Linked DNA regions of Homo sapiens. The protein of the gene in region 2 purifies or fractionates together with the protein of the main gene of each other region. This does not show direct contact. Each region holds a gene or a part of one and is shown on either strand. Other genes may lie near its edges.

Region 1 (4,242 bases), on a different chromosome or scaffold from region 2:
GCCAAGGAAACACCTTCACCCTCAGGGCCTCTGGGGGTCACCATGCTCCCTTTAGGCCCACACTTAATTTCTTTATACTAAGGCCATGAAACTTGAGTCCCAGTTCAGTTTCAACCACCAAACCACTGTGTGGGGTCCATCTCTCTAGACCTTCGTGTATTTGCTGTTTAAAAGTAATGAAGAAAGGGGAGGGAAGGCTGAACAATAATTAACATTTGTAAAGAACAGTTTGGTTCAGTACCTTATCTCATTGATGCTCACTCTATGCCCATTTTACAGATGGGAAAAAGAAGACTTAGAGAGGTTAAGTGAACTGCCCAAGTTTACCCTGCTGGTAAGCCAGGACTTTCTTGGCAAATCCTGTGATCCTTCAACTTGACCATATTAGAAGATTCTAGTATTGGTGAAATCTAAAACTTGTAGGGCCCATCTTAAAATAGCAAAGTAGTTTTAACTAGGCACTGTCAGATGCATCTGGGCTTTGAATTATTACTTGGGCAGGTTCCTTGAACTTTGGTGTTCTCATCCAGAATAAAAGACAGTGGTGCCAGGGTAGGAGCTATGAGCACAGAGAAAGTAGCCCTTGAATGGGGCCACAGAGGGATGCTGCAGGGGACTGTAGTTTTGGATGAGGAGCTGAACTAGAAGCTTCCAAGTGCTCTTCCAAGACAAAGATTCTATGATTCCCTAACTGGGATCTTTCCACTGTTTCAGGTGATAATTCTGAGCTCAGATCCTGTGCACAGAACCTAATGCAGTCTTCGTGTCAGAGCTAGAAGAGACCTTGGGCGACCACCCAATCAACTTTTCATGGTTCAGTTGTGGAAACTGATGTCCACAGATAAATGTCTTGCTATCATGTCAGATAGTTCTCCAGCCACGACTGAGGCCTGAGTCCCCCTAGGGCAGAGGAAATCTCCCATTTCTAAAAGAAAGCCCCGCACTGTTCATAGCAGTCACAACCTCTCTCACATCCCTGAATCAGGATCCAACGACTTGCCAATCAACAAATGTTGCTGGAGAGTTTACCACAAACAAGTCTCTGTGCTAGGCCCTGAGAACACAAGCTGTCCGGCAACTTCCTGCTCCCTAAAGTCACAGTCTATGGTGGAGGTGCAAACAAGCGATCCTGTTGGGGCTTCAGGGTACTTCCTCCTGTGTGCTTTGCACGTAGTAGGTGCTCAGCGAACGGAAACGGGGAGACTAGTTATCACTCTCCAGGCAAGCCCGCAAAGAGGCCTCAGGTGAAAAGAGAAAGGAGGATTTTTTTTTCCGGCCCTGGCTCTGCGCACCGCTCCCCAGCGCGCCAGGCGGGGCTGCGTCCGGAGCATCCTTCCCTCCGCCTCTGTCCTGGTCCCCGCTCAGCGGCCGCTAGGAGCGCGAAGGGAGGGGCGCGGGGGCGCGCACGCAGGGTGTCGGGGGCGCGCCGGCCGCCCGGGGACGCGCACGGGCTGGTCTCTGCCCTAATGCGGCGGCTGGCGGCGAGAGGCGCTGCAGGGGACGCGGGGGAAGTGGCGGCGCCGGCAGCGGACAGCTCGGACAGCGCCCAGGGCCGGAGCCCGAGCCCTTGGAGGTAGGCGAGCGCGAACACCGGAGAGATGGGGGTAGAGAGTCATGGAAACCCACCTAGCGACACCCCCTTGTTCCCGCCCTCGTCTGTCTCCATCCCCTGACCTGCCCCCTCCCCCTCCGTCCACATTCCCATCCCTTCCCCTCTCCACACTGTCACCTGCCCCGAATCCATCCGATTCTGTTCGTATGCCCACCCCGTCCCCGTCCAGCTCCCAGCCCCCTGCCCACCCCAACACCCTTTCTATCTCGTTGGCCGCGTCCCCTCCCCCTTCCCGCATCCTCAACCCTTTCCCTTTCCTCTCTGTCCCCGCCTCATCCGTGAGCCCTGCCTGCCCTTGTACTTCTGTTTACCTCGACACCCCACTTTGGATGACCCCATGCCTCCTGTATTTCCTACCGCACACATCAGCCCCTTCTTGCCTCCCCTATTCTCTTCCCCATCTCATGCCCCTACCAGTTGGTGTCCTGTCTCTCCATTTGCTCCCTCAGTTTCTGTCCTCCCCTGGTTCCCCCTTGCACGCCCTGTCCCAGCCCCTTCCCAGCTGCCTCTTGGTGTCCTCCTGCATCACAGTCCCTCTCAAGAACCCCGCCTTCTCCCCCCTTTGGCTGTTAGCTGGCCTGACACCCGTCACCTTCCCTAGCTGCCCTTCCTGGTGCTGTGTGGAGCCATACAGCCTGTACCCAGCCCTCCCTCAGTGGCCTCTGGACCCCCCTTCCCTGGGTGGGGATCTTGGTTGTGGAATATAACCCCTTTCTGCATGTTCGATCCTATTTGTGGCTTGGGGAAGAATGCTGGGGGTTAGTAGGCCTCTCTCTTATGTTCCTCTCCAGCCATGCAGCCACTCTACTCCTCTAGCTGTTCAGGTTTGTTTCCTAGATGGATTGGGGGAGGGGGTGCTAGGCATTGGGAAACTAGGATGGGGAAGGGGCAGGGTCCAGGGGAATGACTGAGCAGACTCCTCCTGGGGCTTGGCCTGAGCCCTGATGTAAAGGCCTGGATGAGGAGCCCTGCTGGAGGGCTGGATAATTTTGGATTTTAGAAAAGATTCTGCTTCAGCCTCCAAGTCAGCACTTTGGCATCTGGAGCTGTCATGAGTGTGGCCCATGGGCTGGGCCAAGAGTGGGCAGAGTGCTGAATCACCTAGAATCTGGTCCCCATGGCAGCCCCCATCCTGTCCTGAGCCAGGTTCTGCTCCTGACTCCTTCCTTGGCATTTTGGCATGGGGTGTGTGTGTGTGTGTGTGTGTGTGTGTGTGTGTGTGTGTTGAGCAGAGATGCCTCATCCCTCAGTGTGGGGGAGAGGACAACAATACCCCTTTTCTGCCTGCCTGTGTCCCTGGCATGAGGGCCTAGTGCGTCTCATCTACCCTTGGAAATGTGCTGGGCCCTGCTGGGCCTCAGTCAAATCTCCAGCAAGGCAAGGGCAAGCCACAGGGCTTTGAGACCTGGTTGGACAGGAGTTTAATTGTTTGTGTGGAGCCAAAGCCAGCCTCAGAGCCCACAGAACTTAAAGCAATAGGAGAATAGCCCAGGGAAAATGTGTGTGAAGAGTGGAAGCCTCTGGGGATAGGGGCCATACCAGCTGTGAGGTGGGGGCAGTGGAGGAAGGCAGGCAGAGATCTATCCTCCTTCTGGTTTGGGGATGATTGGATGTGGTGGAATTGCATTGCAGGAAGAATTGAAGGAGATGGGGGCCTGCTACGCAGCTAATACATTTCACCTTTTGTCTTGACTGAGCTGGCACTTCGGAGGGAGTAATTTCTCCCCTTGTCTTTGGATTCAACTGAAGGGGTGTGTTGTGTGTGTTGTGATGTGTGTGTGTGTTGTGATGTGTGTGTGTGTTGTGATGTGTGTGTGTGTTGTGTGATGTGTGTATAGAGAGAGAGAGAGAGAGAGAATTATGCCAGTAAGGAAAGAGACTCACTCCCACTTAGCCCCAGAAATTGTGGTTGCCACTGTGGAACAGGGAATGGCAGCCCGATTCCTGTCTTAGGGGCTTAGACGAAACCCAGAGGCTTAAATTGAGGCGTTAAGAGCGAATTGCAGACAGACTCTGTCCCTTCTCTGCAAGGCTTTCACTTTAGGAATCCAAGTGACTGGACTCCTTCAGCTCCTGTGCAGTAAACTCTGAATGGGCCTCAGGCAGTGCCTGGCAAGGGGATGTGCTGCTGGGGGCACTGGCTGCACCTTGCTTTGTCACCCTTCTCCGTCGCCTCTCCAGCGTGAGAGGGGGTGGGGCTGGAAGCTTTCCCTGGCATCAGTGCCTAAGGGCTGCCAGCTTTTCCTGGTACAGGGAGAAAGCATTACCTGCAGCCGTTGTTGAGAGCTGATTGGATTAAGGTCCTGATGTTGAAATGCTTGACTGGAGCTCAGGTGAAGTGGGGGATTCTAATAACAGTGTACATATTTCCCAGTTTTGTGCAATGAATTTCACCCCTCACCCCCTTGTTTGGCATCAGAAAGAGTACGGAGAAATAAACCAAGGCACACGGAGGGAGAAGCCAGCTCCCCAGAGAGCTGGAGCAAGACCTTCCAATTGTACCTAGCCAGCTCCCTGTGGGCTGAACTGGCTGCGCTCACAAGGGCTGGTTCTTTTAAGGCACACATTGAAGAGGTGGCTGAGAGCTGGGGGTGGGGTTCTGGCTTTGCATTTCTGGGGTGGGTGGGCCA
Region 2 (3,500 bases):
AAGATCCTGCATATGAATGAGACCATGTGATATTTGTCTTTCTGTGCCTGGCTTATTTTACTTAACATAGTGCCCTCGAGGTTCATCCATGTTGTGGGCAGATGGCAGAATTTCCTTTTTTTTTTAAATGGCTGAATAGTATTCCACTGTTTATAAAGCCACATTTTCTTTATCTGTTCACCCGTTAATGGACACGTAGGTTGATTCCAGATCTTGGTTATTGTGAATAGTGCTACAGTAAACATGGGAGTGCAGATAGCTCTTTAACATACTGATTTCATTTCCTTTGGATATATGCCCAGTAGTGGGATTGTTGGATCGTATGGTAGTTCTATTTTTAATTGTTTGAGGAGCCTCTATACTGTTTTCCATAATGGCTCTACTGATTTGCATTCCCACCTATAGTGTATAAAGGTTCTCTTTTTGTCACATCATCACCAACACTTACTATCTTTTGCTTTTTTGATAATTGCCATTCTCAGTGGGGTGAGTTGATTGATATTGTGGGTTTGATTTGCATTTCCCCAATGATTAGTGATGTTGAGCATTTTTTCATATACCTGTTGGCCATTTGTATGTCTTCTTTTGAGAAATGTCCATTCAGGTCTCTTGCTCATTTTTCACTTGGGTTATTTGTTTTTTTATTGCTGTTTGAGTTCTTTATATATTTTGATTATTAATCTTTTGTCAGGTAGATAGTTTGCAAATAGTTTCTCCCATTCTATAGATTGTCTCTTCACTCCGTTGATTGTTTTCTTTGCTGTGCAGAAGATTTTTAGTTTGATGTAATCCCAGTTATCTATTTTTGTTACCTGTGCTCTTGAGGTCTTGTCCAAAAAAATCCTTGCCCAGACCAATGTCATAAAGCATTTTACCGTTTTCTTCTAATAGTTTCACAGTTTCAGGTCTTACATTGAAGTAAGTCTTTAATCCATTTTGAGTTAATTTTTGTATATGGTTGAGAGATAAGCATTCATTTTCATTCTTCTGCATGTGGATATCCAGTTTCTCCAGTAACATTTACACTTTGCCCGTTGTGTAAAATCAGTTGAGTGTAAATACATGGATTCATTTCTGGGCTCTTTGTTCCACTGGTTTATATGTCTGTTTTTATACCAGTACCATGCTGTTTTGATTACTGTAGCTTTATAGTGTACTTTGAAGTCAGGTAGTGCGATCCCTCCAGCTTTCTTCTTTTTGCTTAAGATTCCCTTGACTGTTTGGGGTCTCTTGTGGTTCCATGTGAACTTAGGATTATTTTTTCTGTTTCTGTGAAGGATGCCATTGGTATTTTGATAAGGACTGTACTGACTCTGTACCTCACTTTGGGTAGTAAGTCACAAAGATTTTGATTCAGAGAAATTTTATCTAGCATTTACATTTGTATAGCTACAGAGTCGTACTTTCATCAGAAATACATTAAGGACAGTGAGAAGCCATTAGTATATTTATGGAATTAGGTTTATGTTAGAATTATTTAGGTATAGTTTGACCATTTTTCAAACCCACAATAAATATTTTAGTGGAGTAAAATGTTAATTTAGCAAATATTTCTCTAATGTCTGTTCTGATAGCCAGTGGCCTGCTTAGGTGCAAATCCTGTCTGTCTCTTAGAAGCTGTGTGACCTTGATAGATTGTTAAGCTTCCCTTTCTGTGAAATGCAGATAATAGTACCTGTCTCATAAGCTATTGTGAGGATGTAATAAAATAGTGTGCAAAAGGAAACACTTAGCAGAGTGTTCAATAAATGTAAACTTTAATTATTATTATTAGTTATTGACTTCAGAGCCTCCCACTGGAGAGACAGTTAAAGATGGGGGTTATCTGATGTCAAGGAATCTATAGTTTGGTAGACTGATCTTAAACAATTGTAATTCATCCAGAAAAATGCCTTAATGCAGGTATAAAAGGGCCAGTGGAAGCATCAAACACGTGTGCAGAACTGCAGGTTGTCAAGGAAGCCTTCAAGTGAGGAGATGGTGTTGATGTCGAGACCTGATGAATGAAAATAGCTCATGGGAGAGCTCAAGAGTGTGAGCAGGAGTTAGAAATTTCAATGGAAAATGGAATCTTTGTGATGCCCTCCACATTTCATTAGCTGTCTGGAGTGAATTGATATGATTATTTACTGCTAAGTATATTCCCAAATATTTAAGATTAAGATCTTATTAAAATAATGAATTATAAAGCCATTAATATTTGGAATTTTTATGTAATAGTTATTTGATTATGGTACTTTTTTTGGCTACAGATATTAACCAATAACATTCTAATTTATCCTTTTAATGGGATAAATTTTAACGGTTTTTTTTCTTCCTGTAACAAGACTAAAAGTACATTTTAAGGCTATGTGATGTAGAGTCTTATTATAGACATTATTTTTCAGTTTACTCTCCTTTTCTGTATTGTACAGAATTTTGTCCCCTTCTATATTGTATTTTAAATTTGGAACCTACTGATGTATAGGCATTTCACTTACTATCTTGAGGGATTTTTCCAGATAAAACTGAGAAATTTTGCAATGGACCTTCTGTCAGTATAAAAGTAGAGCAGCTCATTTCCTTTGTCCCATTCTGAAAATCATACCAGAATAGAATAGCCTGCTTCTGTATTATTTTATGTACTCATTGACATTGTCTTTTCTGTGAGCACCCTTCACCCCACATGGAGCCCTAACAATGAAAATTTACTTGTGTGTATATAAGGATATTATCCCTTTTGATCATTTAAATAGATATGGATAGTGATAGAAATCTGTGTGTGTGTGTTTTTTTTAAGGTATTGCCATCAGAGAGTCAGCAAAGGTAGTTGACCAAGCTCAAAGGAGAGTGTTGAGGGGAGTTGATGACCTTGACTTTTTCATAGGAGATGAAGCCATCGATAAACCTACATATGCTACAAAGGTAAATTTCCGACAGGTGTTTGCTTCTCTAAGTGTAGAGTAGTAGGATGAGTAATGCAAAATGGTCATCTAGAAGTTGTATTTGCGAGTTGTAGAATGTGTTATGTTTGAATTCTTATGTTTGAATAGAGGTGGTGGTGATGGTTGGTTTTGAATGGGGGTATTTTTGATTGGAGAATTAAGGGAATTAACAGATCCCTGGAATGCAGAATAGACTCAGGAAACACCAGGTCACACATGAAAGCAAGATCCCCTCCTCTGGAAAATTGTTGACAGGTTGACTAACCTGTCAGATGAGGGAAAATTGCAGATTGGTTAATTAAAAAGAAACACTAACGTTATTTAAGCAGACTTTTTTTTTTTAAAGCTCCAGATCCAATTGTATGATAATTAGCTGCAGTTTTCTATCGGTTCCTCATTGTATTTTTTGTTGTTGTTTTTTTAGAGATAGGTCTTACTCTGTCATCCAGGCTGGAGTGCTGTGATGCCGTCTTGGCTCACTGCAGCCTCGACCTCCTGAGCTCAAGCAATCCTCTCACCTCAACTTCCCAAGTAGGTGGGACTACAGGCACGCACCACCAAGCCTGGCTGATTTTT
Region 3 (3,500 bases), on a different chromosome or scaffold from region 2:
GCCAAGACAGAAAACCACTGTTAATGTGAACTTCTCTAGGGAAAGATAGTATCTTACCTAGATCTGAAGTCACCTTCCCACTGGCCTCTCTATCTTGTCCCTCCATCTCCCCAACCTCAACACCCAGCCCAGTGGTTGGCACGTGAAAGACATTCAGTAAATGTTTGTTAAGCAGCAAATGCAAATAAAGCCATAGCAAGGACTCAAGGATTTTAGAGGTTCAAAGGATAAAGAAAGCACATCTGGCCAGGTGCAGTAGCTCACGCCTGTGATCCCAGCACTTCGGGAGGCCGAGGCGGGCAGCTCACCTGAGGTCAGGAGTTCGAGACCAGCCTGACCAACATGGAGAAACCCCATCTCTACTAAAAATACAAAATTAGCTGGGTATGGTGGTGCATGCCTGTAATCCCAGCTACTCGGCAGGCTGAGGCAGGAGAATAACTCGAACCTGGGAGGCAGAAGTTGCAGTGAGCCAAGATCATGCCATTGCACTCCAGCCTGGGCAACCAGAGTGAAACTCCGTCTCAAAAAAAAAAAAAAAAAACACATCCGACTGGAGAAACTAGAAAGTGGAAAGACTGCACAGGAATGGGAATCCGAGGTATGGGTAACATCTTAAGTGCTCAAGATGGGAGAGGCAGAGGGCAAAGTGTATGCTTCAGCAATTGCAATTGCGAGGATGGATACGGTGAGAGGTAGAGGTGGGTGGGTGGTGATGACACTGCTGAGGAAAAAAGCTTACGACTAACTCCCAGGACTTTGGGAGGCCGAGGCAGGCAGATAATGAGGTCAGGAGATCAAGACCATCCTGGCTAACATGGTGAAACCCAGTCTCTAATAAAACAACAACAACAACAAAAATTAGCCAGGCGTGGTGGCACACACCTGTAAATCCCAGCTACTTGGGAGGCTGAGGCAGGAGAATCGCTTGAACCTGGGTGGGGGACGGAGGCTGCAGTGAGCCGAGATCGTGCCACTTCACTCCAGCCTAGGTGAAAGAGTAAAACTCGGTCTCAAAAACAACAACAACCACCACCACCACCAGCACTAAGCGCACAGGAGGAGGAAAACCTGGATTCATTATCCAACAAAGAGGCTGAAGCAGAAAAAAGATGTGGTACTTGGCCTAAAAGAGTGGTGGCAAGAAAACCAGAAAGAACACATGTGGCACACTCTGAAGATCAATTCTACAGACCTTGGCCTACCAGCAACAAAAATGGTGATGTTAATTTTAAAAAGAAATTCATAATGAGAATATGGTTGTGGAACGAGTTCAGCATTCATTTGTTCAACATTTACCAAATACCTACTGTATACTGGGCACTGTCTTTGCGTGTGTGTGTGTGTGTGTGTGTGTGTGTGTGTGTGACGGAGTTTCGCTCTTGTCGCCCAGGCTGGAGTGCAATGGCACGATCTTGGCTCACTGCAACCTCTGCCTCCTGGGTTCAAAAATTCTCCTGCCTCACCCTCCCAAGTAGCTGGGATTATAGGCATGTGCCACCATACCCAGCTAATTTTTTGTATTTTTAGTAGAGAAGGGATTTCTCCATGTTGGTCAGGGATTTCTCCATGTTGGTCTTGAACTCCCGACCTCAGGTGATCCACCCGCCTTGGCCTCCCAAAGTGCTGAGGTTACAGGCATGAGCCACCATGCTGGGCACTGTCTTAAGTTACAGGGATACCAGGAGTCTACACAGACAAAGGTCTTCTTCAGGAAGGTTACATTCTAGGGGGGAAGGAAGGACAGTAAGTTGGCAAAAAAACAAAAACAAAAACATGTAACTCAAGATAGTGATAAATCCTAAGAAGATAAAGCAAGACAGTGGTACATATGGATTAGGCGATGCTGGGTATTTCAGGGTAGGCCCCTAAGATCTAAGACGGTCACAAATGCTTTGTTACTCTCCCCACGGAAAGATGGAGTGTATTTCCCCCTCTCCTGAATCTGGGCTGGCCCTGTGACTACTGAACCAAAATCCTTTGGTTGAAGTGGGGCTATGATGGTTCTAGGCCTAGCCTTCAAGAGGGTCGCCTGCTTCTACTTCACTTTGGAACATGTGATGGTTAAGTGTCAACTTGACTGGACTAAGGAAAACCTAGAGAACTGCAAAGCATTCCTTCTGATGTGTCTGAAGGGGTTTCCAGGGAAGACTGGTTTGTGAGTCAGCTGACTGAGTGTGGAAGATCCACCCTCTGTAGGGGCCAGCACCATTCAGTCAGCTGGGGACCCTAATACAACAAAAAAGAGAAAAGGAATTTCTTTTCTCTCCTGGAGCAGGGACACCCTTCTTCTCCTGTCACTGGACATCAGAACTCCAGGCTCTCCAGGCTTTGGAATCCCAGACTTAAACCAGCAGCCCCTAGGTTCTCAGGCCTTCAGCCTCAGACTGAAAATTACACCATAGGCTTCCCTGGTTTTAAGGCTTTCACACCTGGACTGAGCCAGGCTACTGGCCTTCCAGGATCTCCAGCCTGTAGACAGCCTATCATGGTACTTCTCGGCACCCATAATCATATGAGCTAATTCCCCTAATAAATCCCCTCTCATCCATCCATCCTCCCACCCTCACTGTCTCTCTGGAGAATCCTAAGACAGAACATATGTTTGTGGGAACACGCCCCTCTTGGAAGCCAGCTGCCACCTTGTAAGAAGGCCAAGTCACACGAAGAGGCTGGGTGCAGGGGCACACTGAGCTCCCAGCCTGCAGCCAATATCAATGGCCAGCCATGTGGGTGAGCCATCTTGGTGGTTCCAGTCCAACCTCTGGTGACTGACTTGGTGACCCAGCCAACATCATGTAGAATAAAAGAACTATCCAGCTGAGCCCCATCACACCCCATAAAACCACAACATCACCAGCAGTAATAAAAGTGTTATTTACAGCCATTACACTTGGCCAGGCATGGTGGCTCACACCTGTAATCCCAGCACTTTGGGAGGCTGAGGCAGGCGGATCACAAGGTCAGGAGATCGAGACCATCCCGGCTAACACAGTGAAACCCCGTCTCTACTAAAAATACAAAAAATTAGCCGGGCATGGTGGCACGCGCCTGTAGTCCCAGCTACTCGGGAGGCTGAGGCAGAAGAATCACTTGAACCTGGGAGGCGGAAGTTGCAGTGAGGCGAGATCACACCACTGCACTCCAGCCTGGGTGACACAGCGAGACTCCGTCTCAAAAAAAAAAAAAGCATTACACTTTAGAGTGGTTTGTTACATGCAAGCAGATAACCACAAGAACATTTAAGGAGAAAAATAAGATAATCTTAGGAAGATTTGGAGAACATCCAGAGAGAAGACACAGCAAGTATAGAAGCCCTGAGTGGAGAAGAAGCTGAAGCAGTCAAGGAACAGAAAGGAGGCCAGAACAGCTGGGTCTTGGGAATGAGCTGGGAGGCAGGGAGGCGGGGAGGCGGGGAGGCGGGGAGGGAGTGGTAGACCACAGTAAAGAGTGTGGTTTTTACTCTATGTGTAACAAGAAGCCACTTGAGGCTTTTAAAT
Region 4 (3,500 bases), on a different chromosome or scaffold from region 2:
CCAAAGTACTTTCTGCCATGCATGTATTCTTCAGAGTATCTTGGTAATATTCTACAGAAAGAGAGATGCTGGAAGATCTACCGTAGGTTACTATGCAGCGGTTGGGCTGAGAGAATTTGAGAAAGTCAGAAAGCGCAGATGACTTAAGACTGGAGAATCTTTGAGCAAGATCAAATTGTGAGTGAGTGTATATGTGTGCTTGGTGTGGAAGTGCAGTGTATTGGAGATTGAAGACAGTGGCTGAGTTTGTATAATACAGCAGAAATCGATGTGATTAAAATTAAGATGTGGTAAGACAGTCTTTGACTAGAGTGACTAAGGTTTTCCATGAACTAGCTGTGTGTGAGCCTACATTTCCAAGTCACTGGTTTATTGTTTTGTATTATACATTCCTTTCCTCTTTTCAATAAGCATAGAAAATCCAAAGTAAGATATATTAACTTACGTTTTTATAAACCAGCTGCATCAAATGCCTTTGCTATAATGACTACAAAATGAATGTCTTTGCTACTAGTCTGATAACCGTCTCAGCACCACAGTATCTAGAGTAATCTGTTTTGCCTGTTGCCTTGACCCCTGAGTACCCCAGTTTAGTACTATTTTTACCCTGAGGGCTTTTTTCTAATGTAGAAAAACAGGAAATTTGGACTAAGACCTTGATTTATAAAATAGAATGCCCCAGATTCCATATTTATTAATCATAAGCAGGAGTATAAAATGTTTCCTGTGCTGGACCTTTTATGCAACATTGTCAAACAAGTTGCCAAGTAAGATATAAAATGTAAGTGAAAACTTATTCTGAGTTTTCCTTGATTAACTTTCCATTCCAACCAGAGAATACTCAGTTTAAACTGATAAGCTACTAACTAAAGCAATCTTGTCTCCACTGGCTCTGCTAAAATGATTACAGATGAATCTTTCTATGAAAGCTTGCAGACAGCCTGCAGATTGAGAATGTCTATGGCCTGAAGTCAGAGAGAAAGATATAATACTACATAATTTCTTCAAGACATGGGGCCAAAGACCCGCAGTTTCAAGATTCTCTTTTAGTTATTACAGAAATAGATTTAAAAAGTTCAGGATTAAAGTGACATGGGAAATCTTGAAATTTTAGTTTCCTCTAAGATAAAACAAAAAACCTGCAAAGAGCAATTGCATCATAGCTAAAGAAAAGAGAGATATGGCTTCTTTTATTTAGAAAGTTAAACTGTCTTGTGGATGTAGATACATGCCAATTTGATGCTGGTACATGCCAATTAGAGACTGTGCCAAGGCCACTAATATGTCACAGAAGCTGCCAGATGGCCATAAGAGTCCAATTACAAACCAGGCCAGTGTTCAGCTCATGTTCCTAAGGCAAAGGCCGGGATATGATTAGCAGATCCCTTAAACTATACTGCATTATCTCTACCAGTATCAAGGTTTTTGGGAAGCGTATTTAGAAACCTGTTACAATCTATTAACGTATGGAGGTGTTCTCGAGGAATATGTTCAGTGTACTGGTTGCATTTGTGCTAGGTTTACAAAGCCAATTAATTAAAACATGACATAAATTAAATCTAGAAATGAGCTCAATTGTAAGAATATGGACTCTTTAATTCTGGGAGAAAAAATAAAAATGTAATTCTGAATCATGCACAGGAAAACGAAACATGCTTGATGAACTGCTTTAGCCATGATATTGCTTCAGTTAAATGATAGGTTCAAATTCTTACATCATCCTAAAGGAAATGCAAAATAATCTTTGGTTTTGGAGACTAGTTACTTTAGCTGGCTGTGGTAGGGTGCCAATGAAGAGGCCAATTTTATGGGGTCAATTTCCATAGAGGTGAGATGACTTTATGGAGAAATCCAAATCCACAGTATTGAAAATTCTTACATTTAGTTAACTGCTTTATGAATGTTGCTGTTTACCCTCAGGGAGACTAGGTAGGAAGATGTGAAAGAATCCGGCCAAGCCACTAAGCATTTCTGGAAACCAATTCCAACACTGTGTGACTTTGACAGTTGATAAGTAATGTCATTTCTTTATATGAAATGTAGCAATTTTAAATATGTAGTCTGAAGAATCACACTCCCCTAAAAAAATGTTGCTTTTAAGGGAAGCAACTAGAGCATATTTTCAATTCCTTAAAGTATCAAAAATTACTTTAAGAATGATTCTCCTGGTTACACATGGCAAATGGACCTCAAAATACCAGTAAACTGAAAATAAAGGGCATTGAAAAGGACCTATTGAGCAGGATCTATATAAAAACCAAGAAACCAGGAGAGAGAACAACAGTAATGGAGAGATTTCAACAACTTTTTGGAAAATGGAAAGTGGCTGGAGCTGGATAGAAGTGACTTGGCACAGAGAGAAAGCTAGCAGCTGGGTTTCAGAAGGGGTGGAAGCTAACAATAAGTAAGTCTTTGACCTGCTCGACTCTGAGAAGGTCCAGTACTTTGGAGGCACAAAGTACTACAGAGAGTAAAGGGTTAAAAAAGAAGAGATTGGCTGAAAGTTTATATTTAGAATGATTAGCTACTCCTGTCCCCCACTAGGTGATATCTCCTACCCTGGTAGCCAAGCAACTATCCCATTACTGCTTCCTTTCACCTTGCCTGTCCTGCCAGCCGACTGGAGATCTATTCTCTGAAGACATCAAGAGGATCAAGGCTGGGCCAGGGGAGAAAGGGCAGAGGCTGAGGCTTGCCTCCATTTCCTGTCCCTATTCCATGCTTACATATTGCAGGCAGGAGACTACTGAATTCCTCTTTGGAAAAATGGAATGGCCTAAAAGAAATACCATCAGAGAGTGACGTTTGGGAGTTCCATAGTAAAAAATCCAGCTTGTTATCCTATCACCCTACCATGAATACACTAATTGACAAACCCAACTCATCACTGTTTCAGTGTATCTCTCTTCAATAAGAATGGATAGCTAAGGTTCCTCAGACATCTAAGGAAAGTCTCCAACACAAGAGCAAATAAATAACAAAAAGAAAAATGAACCTAGAGAAAAGTGGGATGGTACCTCAAAATAATGACAATTCATATCCTCAGAGAGATAAGGGAAGATTTTGCAACCATGAAACAAGAACAAGATGCTGTAAAAATGGGAAAAACAGTTAAGCATTAAAACAAATAAGAAATGTGGAATAAAAATAAACGAGGAAGGCTTGAAGATAAAGTAGAGGCAATGTCCCAGAAAGAGATGAAAAATGAAAAGAAAAAAGTGGTGAGAAAATCAGAGAATCAGCCCAAGAGATTCAATTTTTCAATAAATGATATTATAGAAAAAGAGATCACATAAAACAGTAGGGGGCTTGGCATGGTGTCTCATGTCTGTAACCCTAGTGCTTTGTGGGGCCAAGGTGGGAGGACTGCTTGAGGCCAGGAGTTTGAGACCAGCCCTGGTTACATAGTGAGACCCTGTCTCAACAACAACAACAACAACAAAAAACAGCCAGGCGTGGTGGCTCACACCTGTAATCCCAGCACTTTGGGAGGCCGAGGC
Region 5 (3,500 bases), on a different chromosome or scaffold from region 2:
CTTACCAAGGATTTGTGAACTATAGAATGTTAGACATAAAAGACTCATTGGCAGTTTCTAGCTTTGATCTCTGCATACTCATTTGCCAGAGCATGAAACTTGACCTAGGAAAATTAGGTTAGTGACAGAGTCAGGAGTGGAACTCAGGTATCTTGACTCCCAATTCAGGGCTCTATTTTCACTACCTGACACTGCCCCTTTTATTGAATTCAGTCTGGATATGTGTCAAAGTTTAAATTGAATTCTTTAAGGATCGACAGAGTTTTATAGTGACTTTTGGAGAGGGTTGTAGCTTCCATCAGTTTCAAAGTAGTCTATGATTCATTAAAAAATTTAAAACTTTTTATATACATATATGATCTCTACTTAGGAAATGGACATTTTTCTTAATTCTTGTTAGAGGTGGGAATGAGTTGGTCAGGATATTAATTTGGAGAACTATATTAGGGAGTTAGGGTTCTTCTAATACTTGGATATAGGTTGGTGTCTTGCTTGTCAATTGGAAACTGGGACCCTTGAATTCCTAAATGAGTTATGGTTATAATGAATTTGATACTCAGATTATGTTACAGCAATCACTATTTCCTGTCATATTAGGCCTTCAGTTAGTATAGAAAAATACAATGGTTCATTTCTTAGGAACTGGTAATATTTTTAGGACAAGTATTTTTGCCATTTGTGATTGACTAACAGTCTATATCATTTTGTGGAACTACTTGACAATTTTTTTTTTTTAATCAACCTGGCAGAAATTGGGGTGGAGAATGGGGTCTTTTGAACAATTTCCATTTTTCAAAAAGTTGAATGAAAAATGTATGTTTATCCATGGCATAAAGCCAAACAGTTGGACTCAAAAGGATTCTTTCCTTATGTCTGTAATTAAGCTGATGAGAGTTTCAATTGACTATATACAAAGCAAAATACATACTGCCTTGTTAATTTTTACAAATTGAGAGCATAACTGTGACAACTTGTTAGGTATAGTATCTCAAAATAATGGAGTCCTTGTAGGAAAGAAGTAATAAAAGATCTTTAGTCTTTGGGACTAAAAATTTGGGAATTACTCTTTAAACTGTTACCTTAGACTCTTTCCTCAGCGTTTGAGATTGTGAAAGCACTGTAAAACTACTGTGTTTGAAGGCTAAGTTAGAGTGACCAAGAAAGCCGTTGTAGGGTTAGAAGCTATACTTACAACCCTTTGGGGTGGCCTAGATTTCAGTTTAATTTAGCAAGTGTTTACATTGTTACCCAGTAGAAATGAAGGAAAAACCTTTTTTTCACTATTAATTTTTGTCATGAAAAGAACTGTGAATTGGCCGGGCGCAGTGACTCACACCTGTAATCCCAGCACTTTGGGAGGCCGAGGTGGGCATATCACCTGTGGTAAGGAGTTCGAGACCAGCCTGGCCAACATGGTGAAAACCCATCTCTACTAAAAATACAAAAATTAGCTGGGCGTGGTGGCAGGCGCCTATAATCCCAGCTACTCGGGAGGCTGAGGCAGGAGAATCACTTGAACCCAGGAGGTGGAGGTTGCAGTGAGCCAAGATTACGCCATTGCACTCCAGCCTGGGGGAGAAGAGTGAGACTTTGTCTCAAAAAAAAAAAAGAACTGTGAATTTTAGAAAATGAAATAGTTTACTTTCTTCTTTATAGTGAACAAAATTTGATTTGGCTTAAAGTGTATCAGTAAAACAAGCCATTCCACTGAACTCATTTTAGCAGATGTTTCACATCTGTATATTTGGACATAATACATAGTCTGTTTTGCAGAATACTTGATGACTTTTAAATGTTTTCCTTAATTGTTTTCTTTAGTGAGTATCTTCCCAGTCTTGTTATTCTCTTTGCTTCATGCTGCCACATATACGAAAAAGGTCCTTGACGTAAGTAAAACTGCTCTTTGTCTGACTTCTGAATTACAGATCATTGACATGAATTTGAGTTCTAAGACATTTTGGTATTTGTCACAAAAAGTCCCTCTATACCTTACAAACTTGTTATGAATTATTTAGTGATTTGAAAGTTTTAAGTTTAAAAGTGTTTATTGTTGAAGTTTCACAAACTAGAACATTTTATAGATAAAGGATTGCACTTAAAATCACCCCCCAGTCTCCAGGGGAATTTTTCAAGTTTGAAATAGATCAGTTTTTTTGAAACCTGTGTCTCTAAAGTTTGTTGAGTTGTCAGATCTCTTGTTCTGTCAGTGTTTAATTCTGGCATACCTGATAAGTTGAGTGTACTGAATGAATCTCTTGTACACTAATTTTCAGAACTGCTGCTTTCCTGAAATTCTTTCTTATTGCTAGGTTGGAGCATTAAACCTAACTTGGCACCAGGCCATTTACAGCATATACTGAAATTTGAATTAAAATATCCAGGCACATTTACCAAGCACATTTACAGAAATTTGAATTAAAATAGCCAGATTTATGCTTTGTATTGGCCTTTTTCTTTATCCCTATAATTCTTTGGTCACAGCAGTAATTACACTGCTGTATAATTCTAACATTAGCTAAGAAAGGAGTCACAGATATTTTAACTGTATTACTGGATAGTCAGATTTTGTTGTGGTTAGAGAGAAATAACCACTATTTTTTGTTAAATAATCATTCTTGAGAAAAAGCAGCTAAGAATGAAAAGTACTTTTACTAAAGTTGTTTTTTATATTAAGTCTAAAAATGTAAAAAAGCAGGAAAATATACTATATTTGTCCTTAAATAGTTTGTGAACTTCGTACCATCATTTCCAAAGTAGTATATTTGGTTGTATTGCCTGTTGGATAGGCTGTTTACCTACAGAAAGAAAATATTGTTATCAGAAATGCTTCACTTATTTCTAATGTTGGTTTTCTTTTGTTTTAGGCAAGGGGCTCAAATAGTTTACCTCTGCTGAGATCTGTCTTGGACAAATTAAGTGCTAATCAACAAAATATTCTGAAATTCATTGCTTGCAATGAAATATTCCTGATGCCTGCGACAGTTTTTATGCTTTTTAGGTAAGGAAAAATTATATTTGTTTTGGGAGGCTGATGACTGAACGTAATAAAGATAGTAACTCAAGTTTTATTCTGTTTAAATCTGTTGAAGGTAGGTATTGACATGTAGAGCTAAATGAATCTTAGCAGTTGCCTAATCTAACCTTTGTCATTTATAGTAGAGAACTTGAAATATAGTAGACCTAGGAATTTGTCTTATTCCTTGTGATTTATCATTTGACATTTTAAAAATTACTTTCATAGTTACCACCTTTGAAAGAATCTTATGAAATCTAATCTAGTCCAGTCTGTCACTATTGAGATGATGTTTCTTACACTAGAGAAAAACTTTTAAAATTATGTTCTTATATTAATAGTGCCTACTATCACCTTATTTTGTTTGTATCTTAATTATAGAAGTAATACATGAATAAAGAAAGCCATCCTTTTAAAAGTATGAACATTAAAATAGTATTGACCTCTGCATTGAAATTTTTGCATTACATTTTAAAACAATACACCT
Region 6 (3,500 bases), about 47 Mb from region 2:
ACAGAGGAAAACTCCATCTCCAAAAAAAAAAAAATTAGTGTGTTCTCTGTGCTCTGGCCCTAAAGAAAATGCTCACTATTGTGAGAGCTATAGAGATTACTGATAATTTGCAGGGGATGGAGGAAAGATGTATTTACAAAGTGAAAGTTGTGGATAGTTTTGAAATATAATATGATAGAATTAAGACTAATGGCTGTTTTTGTAGGCTGGGCGCGGTGGCTCAGGCCTGTAATCCCAGCCCTTTGGGAGACCGAGGCGGGCGAATCATGAGGTCAGGAGTTCGAGACAATCTTGGATAACACGGTGAAAGCCCATCTCTATTAAAAATACAAAAAATTAGCCTGGTGTTGTGGCGGGCGCCTGTAATCCCAGCTACTCAGGAGGCTGAGGCAGGAGAATCTCGTGTACCCGGGAGGCAGAGGTTGCAGTGAGCCGAGATTGCGCCACTGCACTCCAGCCTGGGCAATAGAGTGAGACTCCGTCTCAAAAAATATACAAAATAAAATAAAAAATAATTCAAAAAAAGACTAATGGCTGTTTTTCTGATGTTTATTTTGGAGGAATTAATTAATAAGGGACTGTTTGGCCTGGGCGGTGGTGCACACCTGTAATCCCAGTTGAGGCAGGGCAGATCACTTGAGCTCAGGAGTTTGAGACTAGTGGGCAACATGGCAAAACCCTGTCTCTACAAAAAATACAAAAATTAACTGGGCATGGTGGCACATGCCTGTAGTCCCAGTTACTCGGGTGGCTGAAGTGGGAGGATCGCTTGAGCTGGGAGGTCGAGGCTGCATTGAACTGAGATCACGCCACTGCACTCCAGCCTGGGTGACAGAGTGAGACACTGTCTCAAAAAATAAATAAATAAACAAACAAGAGACTGTTGTTAGTGTTATATTAAAATTTTGAAAATGCTAAACTTAATTTTTGTTATAGGTGTAAAGGATTTTATTTTTTTTTTGAGACAGGGTCTTTCTGTCACCCAGGCTGAAGTGTAGTGGCACCATCACGGCTTACTGCAGCCTCAACGTCCTGGGCGCAGTGGATCTTCCCACCTCAGCCTCACAAGTAGCTGGGACTACAGGTGCATGCCACCTTGCCCGGCTTATTTTTATTTATTTTTTGAGACAGAGTCTCCCTCTGTCACCCAGGCTGGAGTGCAGTGGCGCAATCTCGGCTCACTGCGACTTCTGTCTCCCCAGTTCAAGCGATTCTCCTGTCTCAGCCTCCTGAGTAGCTGGGATTACAGGGCCACACCACCATGCATGGCTAATTTTTGGATTTTTAGTAGAAATGGGGTTTCGCCATGCTGGCCAGGCTGATTTCGAACTTTTGACCTTGTGATCTGCCCACCTCGGACTCCGAAAGTGCTGGGATTACAGGCATGAGACACCACACCCAGCTGCCTGGCTAATTTTTTAATTTTTTGCAGAGACATGGTCCCACTATGTTGTCCATGCTGGTCTCAAACTCCTGGTCTCAAGCCATCTACCTGCCTGCATTTTTTCAGAGATGAAGTCTCCCTCTGTTGCCCAGACTGGAGTGCAGTGGTGTGATCATAACTTACTGCAGCCTTAAACTGGTCTCACACAATCCTCCTGCCTCAGCCGCCCTGTTAGCTGGGACTACATGCACACATGCCCAGCTAAGAGTACTTCTTAAAGCTTAGTTGGTGAATCTAGTATTTTAATGAAAAGGGTTTTAAAATACTGTTAAAATTATAATATTTCTATTCTCAGTTGTCTCATTTGGAGTGCAGAGGAAACAAAAAACATTATTTTAGCATTCCCTCCAAAGAAATGTGAAGGATTGGCCAGGCGTGGTGGCTCATGCCTGTGATCCCAGCACTTTGGGAGGCCGAGGCAGGCAGATCACCTGAGGTCAGGAGTTCAAGACCAGCCTGGCCAACATGGTGAAAACCCGTCTCTACTAAAAATACAAAAATTAGCCAGGCGTGTTGGCGCATGCCTGTATGTACTCTCAGCTACTTGGGAGGCTGAGGCGGGAGGATCACTTGAACCCAGGAGGTGGAGGTTGCAGTGAGCAGAGATCACACCACTGTACTCCAGCCTGGGTAACAGGGTAAGACTCCATCGCCAAAAAAAGAAATGTGAAGGATTTTAAGTTTTGGGGAAAGTATCAGAGGAGTTCATTCTCTTCCTGGTTTAACATCAGGCTTCTGGTCTATGGGGTTTTACTTGACAATTAAGATACCATCATTACTATCATGGATAGTGTATTTGTGCAGCATGTTTTCTTAAAATTTTTTCTTTTAAATATGTCAAAAAATGCATAAAACTGCCCTCTCCCCCCTTTTCACATCTAGTAACTTTATATCTTCATTCAAGATAGAATGCTTGGGCTTTCCTGACTGCAAAACTGATTTCCTTGGGCCTCTCACCTTGGGGTAGTCAGGCTTGTTTTCTCTTTGCAATTTAATTCTCTCAGGCCTCTTCTATGTTCATAAGATCACCTCTCTCTCCTCTCCCCAACCCTCAATTTAAAAATTATATTCCAGTCCGGGCGCACTGGCTCACGCCTGTAATCCCAGGAACTTTGGGAGGTCGAGGTGGATGGATCACCTGAGATCAGGAGTTCGAGACCAGCCTGACCAACATGGTGAAACTCCGTCTCTACTAAAAACACAAAAATTAGCTGGGCGTGGTAGCGGGCGTCTGTAATTCCAGCTACTCAGGAAGCTGAGGCAGGAGAATCACTTGAACCCGGGAGGTGGAGGTTGCTGTGAGCCGAGATCAGCCAAGATCACGCCATTGCACTCCAGCCTGGGCAACAAGAGCAAAACTCCGTCTCAAAAAAAAAAAAATTCCATTTCAGCTTCCCTTTCACGTAGTTCCTGCTTGCGAAAATGACACTAGTTTGAGTTTTGCCTTTCCTAGTCCAGAGCTCTGAACAGTTCTTCTAGTAAATATGCTCTCCGCTTTTAGGCCTATAGGACAGAACTTAGAAAAATATATATTAAGTGATTTAAAAATCATTGGTACTATATATACTTTAATAATTAATTTGGGCCGGGTGCGGTGGCTCATGCCTGTAATCCCAGCACTTTGGGAGGCCAATGTGGGTGGATCACTTGAGGCCAGGAGTTTCAGACCAGCCTGGCCAACCTGGTAAAACCTGGTATCTACTAAAAATACTAAAATTAGGCCAGGCGTGGTGGCTCACGCCTGTAATCCCAGCACTTTACAAGTTTGAGGTGGGCGGATCACCAGGTCAGGAGTTTGAGACCAGCCTGACCAACATGGTGAAACCCCGTCTCTAGTAAAAATACAAAAAATTAGCTGGGCTTGGTGGCACGCGCCTGTAATCCCAGCTACTCAGGAGGCTGAGGCAGGAGAATCGTTTGAACCCAGGAAGCAGAGGTTGCAGTGAGCCAAGAACATGCCACTGCACTCCAGCCTGGGCAACAGAGTGAGACTCTGTCTCAAAATAAATAAATAAATAAATAAATAAATAAATAAAATAAAATAAAATACAAAACT
Region 7 (3,500 bases), on a different chromosome or scaffold from region 2:
ATGTAGAAGCTAAACTTTTCCTGAACTTAGGGCCGCACTACCAGAGATCAAATATAAGAAATATATTTCTCAAGCAGTTTGCTGTTCTTATCTGAGTCTGTGATACTGAGTGGGAGAAACACTGGCAAAAGCTCTACTTTTTTCTTCTAGGGAATGACACCTGTTTACTTATAAAAACTGAAAAACAGTATTATTTTCAAAATGCATGGCAAATCTTTAAATGTCAATGATCATGGTTGATTTTCATTGCCTAGTACAAGGTCAGGTACTTCATAGACACTGAACTTATTTTTTAAATGCATGTTTCAAAGTACTTTTTGTTTCAGTATGTGGTAATGGGTTACTCTGAATAGTAAAAAACATACTTTTTTTCTTCCAAGCCTAACATTGATGTGCAAGAGTCTATCCATTTTTTGGAGTCTGAATTCAGTAGAGGAATTTCAGACAATTATACTCTAGCCCTTATAACTTATGCATTGTCATCAGTGGGGAGTCCTAAAGCGAAGGAAGCTTTGAATATGCTGACTTGGAGAGCAGAACAAGAAGGTAATGTGCTGGGCCCACTTGAGGTTGTTATGCTTTATGAAATATATAACTTACATGAGAAAAATTTTTAGCCAGGTTTGAAATTGATTACATCTGCATCTTTTGGTGAAAAGTAAAACACATAATGAGATCAGGATGGGCCTGACATGGCCACAATGCTTCTGGTCTCCCCAGGGTTTTTTTAACAGAATTTCAGGGCTCAGATGTCTCTTTATTTTAGATATGTGATGCCCTATGTCAGTTACCCTTTGAGTGTCTGATACCATTTCTGGTTTGGCAGCCTTGTAGTTTGCTAAGACCTTGGGTTCTGGAGAGACAGGTTAAATCCTGGTTCTGCAACTTACCTTTATGAGGTTCAGTTTTCCCAACTGTAAAGTGGAAATGGCACCTATTTTAGAGTGGCTGTGAGGATTAAATGAGATAATGTGCAATGCTGCTGCATAGCAAATGCTCAAAAATAGGAACTAAAATGCTAATTAAAAGAAATGTGAATACCAAAAAATGCTGCTAGTAAGTGGATTATGTGTATTTTATATACAAAGTGGACAGGGATCCAGGTGTGTGTGTGTGTGTGTGTGTGTGTGTGTGTGTGTGTGTAAGAAAGAGAGAGATGGAAGTGGGTGGGCAGAAATAAGATAATGTCCAGTGATTCAAATTTCTGTTAATTCAAGAAGGGATAATTGTAGAAAGTGTTTAGAGGCTTCTGAGACTGTAAAAAATATTGTATTAACAGTAACTTAGATTGAATCCTTGTTACCTATTCCAAAGCTGGGGACTAGAAGATTATTGCTTAGAGGCTGAAGCAGTCTTTGACATTTTTTCTTCTTGTCTGCTTGGCTAAGTGGTAGTTATTTAATATTCCACCTAAGTGTAGTCATCATCTAAATAGTAATATTTGAGAGAGGGCACCAAGTAGGATGGTCCTCTGGGGACTAGAGCAGAATTATCTCTAGGAAGGTTGTTGAGTTAGCTGGGGATCCTAATTTTTTTTCCTGGGGGCTTGAACCTCAAACTGTTAACACCAACCTTCAGATAATGAAAATGGGAGAGTCCAGAATATTAGAGCTAGTTAATGGCAGATTCCCAGAATAGGATTCTTTTCAATGTGTCTTAAAATATTTTGGGGATGGCCTGGTCAGATAAGTAACGTGCATTATCTTCTGAAATATATTATTTTTTCCTTTTATTTATAGCTATTTAGTCTTGAGCCAAATATAGGGAATTTCTCATAGGAAAACTATTTTCATCAAAACATCCTCAAATGTAGGCAATGGGAAAAGGATGAAAATTTACAAGTATATAGGTTGAGCATCCCTAATCCAAAAATCTGAAATCCAAAATGCTCCAATGAGCATTTCCTTTGAGTATCATGTCAGTGCTCAAAAAGTTTCAGATTTTTGAGCATTTCAGATTTTGGAATGTATGTATGCTGTAAATATTCCAAAAATTCAAACAAAACAGAAATTGGACACACTTCTGGCCCCAAGCTTTTTGGATAAGATATACTTAACTTGTAATAGTTTAAAAAAGCAACATATAGGCACATGTATACATATGTATGTGTGTGTGTGTTTGTGATAAATAAATACATGTCTGGCATAAATAAATACATGTATACAAGTATATATTTTTTATGCTAGTTAAGTACAACTTGGACCAGAGTAGGAATATTTAATGGTATAAAATGTAATTTTTCTGGATAATTGATCAGAATGTTATTACTTTTCTCTTGCAGGTGGCATGCAATTCTGGGTGTCATCAGAGTCCAAACTTTCTGACTCCTGGCAGCCACGCTCCCTGGATATTGAAGTTGCAGCCTATGCACTGCTCTCACACTTCTTACAATTTCAGACTTCTGAGGGAATCCCAATTATGAGGTGGCTAAGCAGGCAAAGAAATAGCTTGGGTGGTTTTGCATCTACTCAGGTGAGAGATGATAGTTTTTTCCCTTTAAACTATAATATATAATATAGATTTATTTATTATATATATTTTATATATAATATATAGTATATATTATATAAATCATATGTTATATATAAAAAATATTTTTAAAAGTATGTGGTTGCATTTTTTCCTTGATTTCATAAAATTACTTGGCAGTTTCAAAGTTTAGTAACTTAAGCAAAAGGCTAAATTGATTAATTTTAATTTTTTTCTCCTCATTACTATGAATTTCATGTCTGATATTTATATGGAATAAATCAGTTCCCCATCTGCCACTTTTCATCTGTGGTAACTGATATAAGAGTAGATGTTCAGTTCCATATAGCAAATATTTTCTATTTTCTTTTCTTCTTTTTGGAAAGGAAAAACTGAAACTTTTAATTTACTGATAATATGATCATTTATGAGCAAAATTCAGTGGGATCTACAGAAATGCTACTAGGATTAACAAGTGAATTTAGTAACATTGTGGTATAAAAAAATCATTGTACAGAAATCCATTGTATCTATATATAAGCAATGGAAATGCAAATCAAAATAGCATAACATGTGAACTGTTTAGGGATTAATCTGACAAAAATCAATAAGATCTATACACTAAAAACTATAAAACATTTCAGCAAACATTTTCTGAGCCTCTCCTGTACTCTAGGCCAAGGACATTCAAATATGAATCAGGGAGCATTCCACTCTGAAGGAAGGTGTATGAATATCCAGCAACAAAATACTACTAAATTTACTCTTTGAAGACCTTGATATATACTTATATGTACAAATGTTTTTCTTCCCTCAACAGGATACCACTGTGGCTTTAAAGGCTCTGTCTGAATTTGCAGCCCTAATGAATACAGAAAGGACAAATATCCAAGTGACCGTGACGGGGCCTAGCTCACCAAGTCCTGTAAAGTTTCTGATTGACACACACAACCGCTTACTCCTTCAGACAGCAGAGGTGTGGGCAAGGGGCAGTTATTTAAAAATCAGTGTAGACAATTCTTTATGCTGGA

Evidence for each region.
Region 1: the proteins of ACTR3B (region 2) and NFASC fractionate together in Homo sapiens (co-fractionation; one large-scale study listed by BioGRID). This does not show direct contact.
Region 3: the proteins of ACTR3B (region 2) and CLCC1 fractionate together in Homo sapiens (co-fractionation; one large-scale study listed by BioGRID). This does not show direct contact.
Region 4: the proteins of ACTR3B (region 2) and CMSS1 purify together in Homo sapiens (affinity purification with mass spectrometry; one large-scale study listed by BioGRID and IntAct). This does not show direct contact.
Region 5: the proteins of ACTR3B (region 2) and TMEM33 purify together in Homo sapiens (co-immunoprecipitation; one large-scale study listed by IntAct). This does not show direct contact.
Region 6: the proteins of ACTR3B (region 2) and PUS7 purify together in Homo sapiens (affinity purification with mass spectrometry; one large-scale study listed by BioGRID and IntAct). This does not show direct contact.
Region 7: the proteins of ACTR3B (region 2) and CD109 fractionate together in Homo sapiens (co-fractionation; one large-scale study listed by BioGRID). This does not show direct contact.

Annotation. Positions count from the first base shown.
Region 1 is NC_000001.11:204,827,210-204,831,451, forward strand, and holds the start of NFASC (neurofascin isoform 1 precursor), read left to right. Parts: upstream 1-1,442; 5' UTR 1,443-1,466; coding exon of another isoform or gene 1,467-1,573; intron 1,574-4,242. UniProt on the Homo sapiens protein: Cell adhesion, ankyrin-binding protein which may be involved in neurite extension, axonal guidance, synaptogenesis, myelination and neuron-glial cell interactions.
Region 2 is NC_000007.14:152,797,752-152,801,251, forward strand, and holds part of ACTR3B (actin-related protein 3B), read left to right. Parts: intron 1-2,779; coding exon 2,780-2,904; intron 2,905-3,500. UniProt on the Homo sapiens protein: Plays a role in the organization of the actin cytoskeleton.
Region 3 is NC_000001.11:108,953,485-108,956,984, forward strand, and holds part of CLCC1 (chloride channel CLIC-like protein 1 isoform 1 precursor), read right to left. Parts: intron 1-3,500. UniProt on the Homo sapiens protein: Anion-selective channel with Ca(2+)-dependent and voltage-independent gating. Permeable to small monovalent anions with selectivity for bromide > chloride > nitrate > fluoride.
Region 4 is NC_000003.12:100,156,862-100,160,361, reverse strand, and holds part of CMSS1 (protein CMSS1), read right to left. Parts: intron 178-3,500; exon of another isoform or gene 1-177.
Region 5 is NC_000004.12:41,941,929-41,945,428, forward strand, and holds part of TMEM33 (transmembrane protein 33), read left to right. Parts: intron 1-1,818; coding exon 1,819-1,886; intron 1,887-2,864; coding exon 2,865-2,998; intron 2,999-3,500. UniProt on the Homo sapiens protein: Acts as a regulator of the tubular endoplasmic reticulum (ER) network by modulating intracellular calcium homeostasis. Mechanistically, stimulates PKD2 calcium-dependent activity. Suppresses the RTN3/4-induced formation of the ER tubules.
Region 6 is NC_000007.14:105,515,772-105,519,271, reverse strand, and holds part of PUS7 (pseudouridylate synthase 7 homolog), read left to right. Parts: intron 1-3,500. UniProt on the Homo sapiens protein: Pseudouridylate synthase that catalyzes pseudouridylation of RNAs.
Region 7 is NC_000006.12:73,807,703-73,811,202, forward strand, and holds part of CD109 (CD109 antigen isoform 1 preproprotein), read left to right. Parts: intron 1-380; coding exon 381-546; intron 547-2,281; coding exon 2,282-2,472; intron 2,473-3,289; coding exon 3,290-3,445; intron 3,446-3,500. UniProt on the Homo sapiens protein: Modulates negatively TGFB1 signaling in keratinocytes.